2 separate regions of the Homo sapiens genome follow, and region 2 is linked to region 1. Evidence: fine-mapped expression QTL. A gene starts in region 1. The other region holds a variant in brackets. All regions are shown on one strand. Distances are between the middles of the regions. Region 1 holds the start of BAIAP2L1 (BAR/IMD domain containing adaptor protein 2 like 1). Region 2 overlaps BAIAP2L1 (BAR/IMD domain containing adaptor protein 2 like 1).

What was found. PIP is the estimated chance that this variant, and not a neighbour inherited with it, causes the effect.
Region 2: its variant is the best candidate, but not a certain one, in a credible set for the expression of BAIAP2L1 in whole blood (INTERVAL, PIP 0.89).

Annotation. Positions count from the first base shown.
Region 1 is chr7:98,399,043-98,403,042 of GRCh38, reverse strand. BAIAP2L1 (BAR/IMD domain containing adaptor protein 2 like 1) reads left to right here and starts at 1,953. Exons shown (of 14, transcript NM_018842.5): 1 at 1,953-2,241. The coding sequence starts at 2,191. RefSeq lists a silencer at 1,620-2,279.
Region 2 is chr7:98,339,307-98,343,306 of GRCh38, reverse strand. All of the region lies in intron 3 of BAIAP2L1 (BAR/IMD domain containing adaptor protein 2 like 1), which reads left to right. Among named protein-coding and RNA genes, the nearest start is that of BRI3, 60 kb to the right of the region's middle. The variant C/AC (reference allele first, on the strand shown) is at 2,348.

The DNA.
Region 1 (4,000 bases):
TTTTAATTATATTTTTTGCAGAGATGGGGGTGGGCTCCCTATATTGCCTAGGCTGGCCTCGAACTCCTAGACTCAACCAGTCCTCCTGCCTTGGTCTCCCGAAGTGCTCGGATTACAGGCATGAGCCATCCTGCCTGGCCCCCAGATAGAAGCTTTTTGTTTGTTTGTTTTTGAGACAGAGTTTCGCTCTTGTCCCTCAGGCTGGAGTGCAGTGGTGCTATCTCAGCTCACTGCAATCTCTGCCTCCCAGGTTTAAGCAATTCTCCTGCCTCAGCCTCCCGAGTAGCTGAGATTACAGGTGCACGTGCTACCATGCCTGGCTAATTTTTGTATTTTTAGTAGAGACGGGGGCAGGGCGGTTTCACCATGTTGGCTAGGCTGGTCTCGAACTCCTGACCTCAAGTGATCCGCCTGCCTTGGCCTCCCAAAGTGCTAGGATTACAGGCATGAGCCACCAAGCCCAGAGGTTTTAAAAAATCAGAATAAGACCTCTGCCCTTGTTGGGTGCGGGTCTCAGGTAGCTAAATGGTGGTTCTTACTGGGGAGAAGGCTGTCACCCAGCCCAAGGTACATAATCCTGGAAGAGAGGCCCAAAGAAGGCAGCTGCCTCACCCTTGGGCAGGGCTGAGGCCGGGATGGAGACAAAATAGGGAGCCCAGGAGCCACACACCTCCACAGAGTTTGAGTGATGACAAGAAGAGAGGCTTCCCTAACACTTCAGCTCAGGTGGTTTTCTAAACCCTACAACAATCTCGTGAGTAGCATGGTTACACTGCATTGAGTTAAAGGTCGTTGTTAATGTAAAGTTTAAAAATGTACTACTGGGCCGGGCGCGGTGGTTCAAGCCTGTAATCCCAGCACTTTGGGAGGCTGAGCAGGGCGGATCACCTGAGGTTAGGAGCTCGGGACCAACCTGGCCAACATGGTGAAACCCCGTCTCTACTAAAAATACAAAAAAATTAGCCTGGCTTGGTGGCACGTGCACCTGTAATCTCAGCTACTCGAGAGGCTGAGGCAGGAGAATTGCTTAAACCTGGGGGGCAGAGATTGCAGCAAGCTGAGAGAGCACCACTGCACTCCAGCCTGAGGGGACAAGAGTGAAACTCTGTCTCAAAAACAAACAAAAAGCTTCTATCTGGGGGCCAGGCAGGATGGCTCATGCCAGGCAGGAGAATCGCTTGAACCTGGGAAGCGGAGGTTGCAGCAAGCTGAGATCGCACCACTGCACTCCAGCCTAGGCGACAGAGTGAGACTCCATCTCAAAAAAAAAAAAGTACTAACATTTCGGTAACTAGACCCTGGCATTTATTAATTTTTTGATATATCAGGAGCTTTCAAAACTGCAAGTGGCAGCCCGTTTTCTCCACCTAGGAGGGCCGATGCCCCCACGGGTCCCTCTAACTTTTGGGGTCAGTGAGCGGCGGGGCAAGAAGAGATCAATCAGGGAAATCAATACAACTGGGGAATGTGGCCCCTTCCCTTGGTCCCCAAAACGCAGGGCTTGAAGGAAGCCCTCATGGAGGAAGTGGGCCTCGGGGTCCCCGGGGCCAGCACCACGCGAGGCAAACAAGGGCTCCAGGACCACAGTCTAAACACCCCCAGGCTGCCCTTGCCCTAGCAAAACAGCAAAGCGAGCAGCCCACTCCACACCGGTCCCCACTCCAGGGTCTCGGGCCCTACGTCGCCGGAGCTCTGGGAGAGCCGCGAGGGGGCGCACCGTGGCCTCGCTGCCCTGTCCGCCACAGGTGGGGTGACCCCGCCCACTCGGGGGGCCCGCTTCCCTCTGGCCACGCCCATTCCAGCTGCCTGGCCCCGCCTCCTCCCCGCCCACCCCGGCCGGGCCCCGCTCACCAGGCCGCCTCAGGTGGGTACGCCACGCCCCTCCGGCCCTGCGGCCCCGCCCCCGTCTGCCCCGCCCGCCTCAGGTGGGGCCGCCCGGCCCGCCCAGCTTCCTCTGGCGGCGTCCGGCCGCTTCTCCTCTGCTCCTCGAAGAAGGCCAGGGCGGCGCTGCCGCAAGTTTTGACATTTTCGCAGCGGAGACGCGCGCGGGCACTCTCGGGCCGACGGCTGCGGCGGCGGCCGACCCTCCAGAGCCCCTTAGTCGCGCCCCGGCCCTCCCGCTGCCCGGAGTCCGGCGGCCACGAGGCCCAGCCGCGTCCTCCCGCGCTTGCTCGCCCGGCGGCCGCAGCCATGTCCCGGGGGCCCGAGGAGGTGAACCGGCTCACGGAGAGCACCTACCGGGTAAGCCCAGGGCCCGGGGCTCAGGGAGGTCAGGGCTTTCCACCTCGGGGTTCAGAAGGGGACTTTACGCGGGAAGGTACTTTCCCTCCCTCCAGCTCCCCTCCCCCGCGTCCTTCCACCTCTCCCGGTCTCTCCCACTCCTCCCCTGGCCCTCCACAGCCCCTCTTCTTCCTCCCCTGGCCCTCTCCTTCCTCCCAGTCCCTCCCCATCCCCTCCCCCCTACTTTTCCTCCTCCTTCCCTCCCCTCCTCCCTGTGCTTCTTCCCTGTCTCTCTTTCCCGCCCCGCTGTACCTCTCCCTCTGCCCCTCCGCTCCCCGTTCACTCTCCCTCCTCCCCTGCCCCTCGACACTGTCCCTCCCCTCCTCCTGGTTCTTCCTTCTCCCCCGTGTGTCTCCCCCTCCTCCCCTGTCCCTTCTTCTCCCCAGTCTATCCCCCTCCCTCCCCCTCCCCCTCCCCCTCCTCTTGGTTCTTCCTCCTTCCCCGTGTGTCTCCCCCTCCTCTCCTGGCCCTTCTCCGCCTCCCCTGTCCCTTCTCCTCCCCGTCCCTTCTCCTCTTCCCTGACCCTCAGAGCTCTGGAGACCACCCCCCATCCCCTGACCAGCTACACATTTTACAACTAGTGCACTTAAGTTGGGGAGGGGTCTGTTGTGCGTCGGTGGGGCCCACGTCCTCCTCCCAACTTCTTGGAATCAGTGACCCGTGCTGTCCTGGCTGCCGGGCTTAAGCCCTCCGGGACCAAAGACACAAGCTCGAGTTTCCTCTAAGAAAAGAAAGCGCCCAAGAATGTGGGGGTGAAACTCCCCTGTAATTAGGATCGCCAGGTGAGCCGAGCTCTGGGCGTTCTCCCGGGAAACGCCCTCCTCCTTAGACCCTTCCTCTCCCACCTTTCAGTTGAACTTGGCTTTTATATATGGGTTATTTGGTGAGGTTCTTGAAGTCAAAGAACAACCGAGGTTTTAATGAAATTGACCTAACCTTAAGGAATGCGTTGATAGCCGGTCTCTTAACTTGCATGTATTAGGAGAGAATTTTTCCAGACACAGACAGAGACTTAGGATTAGTGGCCTGTTTAGTTTACATACTTACAAATGAATTCCAGGTGAAATAAGATATCTGTTAATCATCTGCTATTAATAGAACACAAAACAACTTTTGTTTTAATTCAGCCTAGGCGCTTCGAACCCTTGAAACTTTAACGTTCTCTAAGTTCATGTATAGGCATGTTTAAGGTTATAAATAAATGGTTGGTCGGTTGGTTGGTTGGTGTGTTTTATCTTTTTTCTGTCCCTGGTGCTTGAATCAGGAAGTTTAGTCATTTTGATAGACTTTTTTAAACCTAAAATTTTAGTTTCTGGGTTTTCAAGGTCTGAATTCCTAAAATCAGAGGAGTCTATTAACTTTTGTTGAATGAAAGTAAGAGAAGAACATGAACATTTTTGTTATGTATTGAAATCCAAGAGATCCGTTCCGTTTATCTTAACACACAAAGTGTATACTGTCACATATAAATTATGCCTTACAGGTAGGGAGAGTAGACACAGTTGACACAGCGTTTTTGATGCTCAGTCACTGTGACCAAAAACTCTTCTATTCGTGTGTTGCCTTCATAGAGGGCGATCTTTAGAAATTTGAGAAATTCGAAATTTGAGAAATTCCTACATTTGTATTGAGATTGCTACTATTTAAATGACCCGGAAGACGTTGCTGCATGAGGTGTGGGGTACTGACCAAGTGTGTAAATAAAACGTTCTTTCTGCCA
Region 2 (4,000 bases), 60 kb after region 1:
GCTAGTGTGTGTGTGTGTCTGTGTGTGTGTGTGTGTGTGTGTGTGTGTGTGTGTGTGTATTTTTTTTTTCCAGTAGAGACAGGGTTTCACCATGTTGGCCAGGCTGGTCTCGAACTCCTGACCTCAAGTGTTCCACCCACCTCAGCCTCCCAAAGTGCTAGGATTACAGGCGTGAGCTACTGCGCCTGGCCGCTCCCACTGTTTAATTGTTAAATAATAGGTCATGGGGTCAAATTCATGCCACTCAACAGATTGTCAGTGGGTGTACCTAAAGTCACTCATGTGACTTTATCACGTGTGATAAAGTTAAATCCTTTATCACACGTGATAAAGGTTAATCCTTCATTACCTGTACACAGTTCAGTTCAAGGCAGCACAGCTACCCAGCAGTGCCCATTTAAAAAAGGAATCTGACATTTTCATAAACTTCCAGTTTTGTTCCTAAATCAAGCAAGGTTTATTTTTATAACTCAGAAAATATTGAAAAGGTGAAAGGGAAAACAGAAATGGTAAGGGGAAAATGTTTTGCCAAAATCTTTAGAAGAACCTTTGAGTCAGTTTTTTCATCCTTAAAGCAGAGAAAAATAAAGGATGTTCTCATTGACTTCTCAGGAAATAAGACTTTCTTTGGGGAGTTTATAAATTTGCTTTGAGCTTTTTAGAGCTCACCATTATGTAAATTTAGGCTATGTTATTTTGTTGTAGTTTAGTCAGCCATTGCATTTTGAATCATTTATTGTTTGGGCCAGTTTCTGAAATTGGGCACAAAACAGAATATTTTATCTCCTCACTATCAGGGAACCTAGAAAATCATAGATTTCCTTTAATCATTGATAGAATGCTTATGGATCATGCAATTTTTAAAAACTACATTATAGATTTGTCTTGCTGATACTCAGAATCCAATCTGACAGTCTTTGGTCTAAAAATTAGAGCAGAAGCCAGGAACGGTGGCTCAGCCTGGGTGCAGTGGCTCACACCTGTAATCCTAGCACTTTGGGAGGCCGAGGTGGGTGGACCTGAGGCCAGGAGTTTGAGACCAGCTAGGCCAACATGGCAAAACCCCATCTCTACTAAAAATACAAAAGTTAGCTGGGCATGGTGGCGTACACCTGTAATCCCAGCTACTTGGGAGGCTGAGGCATGAGAATCATTTGAACCTGGGAGGCGGAGGTTGCAGTGAGCCATGATTACACCACTGCACTCCAGCCTGGATGACAGAGCAAGACTCTGTCTTTATAAAAAAAAAAAAAAAAAAAAAAAAATCAGAAAAAAATTTCTGAAACATTTTTGAAATGTTACTAATTCACAACAATATTACAAATATATTCCTAAGATCTGGATAAAAGAATTCATACCACAGTAGGGAAAGAGCTGAGCTGAGCCACAGCAGTTATAATTGACCAAAATCACTTATCTTTTAGTTACAGGTTAGACTCACTTTAAAGAGATTAAAATTCTTCCACAAAAATAGCAAAGAAACAAGAGGAGATTTTATTTACTGAACACTGTACCTGCTATATGCCAGGCACAGTTCTAAGCACATTATAAATGTAATATTAACTCCTATAATCATCATGACAGCACTGTGAGGCCCATGCTTGTTATTTCCGTTTTATAGATGAGGAGACTGAGGTACAAAGGCAGTAACTTGCTGAGGTCGCGTATCTGGTCAGTGGCTGGTTCATTGGACCCCAGGCTACCTACCAGGTATATGACCTAGTCTGCCAACTTAATTTTCTATATGTCCAAAAGATGTGCTTTTTTAAAAAATAAAAAATTTTTTTTAGAGATGGGGGTCTTTCTGTGTTGCCCAGGCTGGTCTCGAACTCCTGGGCTGAAGCAGTCCTCCCACCTCAGCCTCCCAGAGTGCTAAGATTACAGACATGAGCCACTGCACCTGGACTGTGCTTTTCTAACGGCTTTACTTTATGGCTGTCAGATTTTCCTGCCAATTAGAGTTCAGCAAAATAAAGGATTGTGTTAAATTGCAAACCATCATATGGTCCATGCTGACTAACCATGTGAGTATGAGTCTGTATTTTGTTGGATTTTTCTCAGCTGTAATCACAATTTTGCTGGTTTTACTTAGAAGCATTTATAATGCGATCATTATTCCAGCTTTTTTTCTTGAGTATTTTCAGTTTGGGGTTTGGAAAATAATTTTTTTCCTGGAAGCAAGCACATGATAAATGCCTTTAGACCTTGAAGGTGGCTTTTCTCATCTCAATTTTTGGGTGGATGTTCTTTCTTCTCCCTTTTGGAACAGGAAAGGTCTCAGCTAGAATAATTAGAAAGGTAGGGTTATAATTTATAAAACCTGTAAGAGACAAAAAAAAAAAAAAAA[C/AC]CAATTAGCTGGGCCTGGTGGCAGGCACCTGTAATCCCAGCTACTCGGGAGGCTGAGGCAGGAGAATCGCTTGAACCCAGGAGGCGGAGGTGAGCTGAGGTCACACCATTGCTCTCCAGCCTGAGTGACAGAGTGAAACTCTGTCCCCTGCAAAAAAAAAAAAAAACCTGTAAGAGCATGTACTGTGGAAGTCCATGTGTCGTGTAGGCGCATTGGTGTAAGTATGTGTACATTCCTAAAGTTTAGGAAGATGTTCTGTGTTATAAATTGTACTTGTTTACAAAAGTTGTTACAAGAAGAACATTCCTTCTCTCAGCTTTGAAGTGAGTATATATATACTCAATGTACTATAATTAGTAAATATTACTTACATAGCCGGGCGTGGTGGCTCATGCCTGTAATCACAGCACTTTGGGAGGCCGAGGCGGGTGGATCACGAGGCCAGGAGATCGAGACCATCCTGGCTAACACAGTGAAACCCCGTCTCTACTAAATATACAAAAAATTAGCCGGGAGTGGTGGCGGGCGCCTGTAGTCCCAGCTACTCAGGAGGCTGAGGCAAGAGAATGGCGTGAACCCGGGAGGCAGAGCTTGCAGTGAGCCGAGATTGGGCCACTGCATTCCAGCCTGGGCGACAAGGCAAGACTCTGTCTCAAAAAAATAAAGAAATAAATATTACTTATGTAGAAGCTGAATCATTGAATCAGATTAGCCATTTCACACTTCATGCTTCCAGATTGCTCACTGGGCACATCCTAAGTGTCAACCTGAAACGTCATTTCCTGTTTTTCATTGTAACTTTATTATGTTTGCCCGTTCTCTTAAATCTTTGGATTTTTAAGTGTTTGAACAGAAAATTGTTTAAACCCAGTTTTCACAGTTACTCAAATTGGTCTTTTTCTCCTTGAAGTATATTGTGTGTCCTAGTAACTCAAGATGGAGACAGCGTAAGTGTCCCTGTCCTCACGCTGTCAGCCACAGCCAAAGGACCGCTGGCCAAGGAGCTGCAACAACTGGGCCGGATAATTGGCCTGTCATGGCGAGGGGGGGTGGCGCAAAGGACCTGGGGCTGTGCCTCTGCCATCATCACCATCCTTGTTCACAAGCGCTACTTACATCCTCTTACAAATAGGTGTGGATTTCTAACTTTTTCACAGCACCATGCTGGGCCTGCAGTGAAGGGTCAGGAACGAAAACACTAGGTTATGACACCCAAATTGGGGAGTGGGGTTGAGAGCATGCCAAGAAAGAGCTGCTGCGGTCACACGCACAGGTAGCAGCAAAGGGCGTAGCTCCCGTGACAGGCTGAAGAGAGGGATACTCAAAGATGGATGCGGCTAGAATCATGAAGCGAGTGAGGCCTGGCCACGCCAGCCGCATTCCCGGGCACACCATGGTGCCACGGTGGAGGGTAGACAGTTCTGGTGGGGGGTTAGAGTCTTCGTTAGTGCAGGTGGGGTTCTAGAAGTTTTTTGGTCTTTAGCAACTTGGGAGTAAATGCACTTCCCTATGTACTCTTTCCTCTTCCGAGTGACTTAACAAAACTGTTAAAAGTAAGAGTGCCAACAAGCACATGAAAAGATGCGCAACATCATTAGCCATTAGGGAAACACAAATCCAAACCACAAGATAGCTACAGCACACCCAATAGAG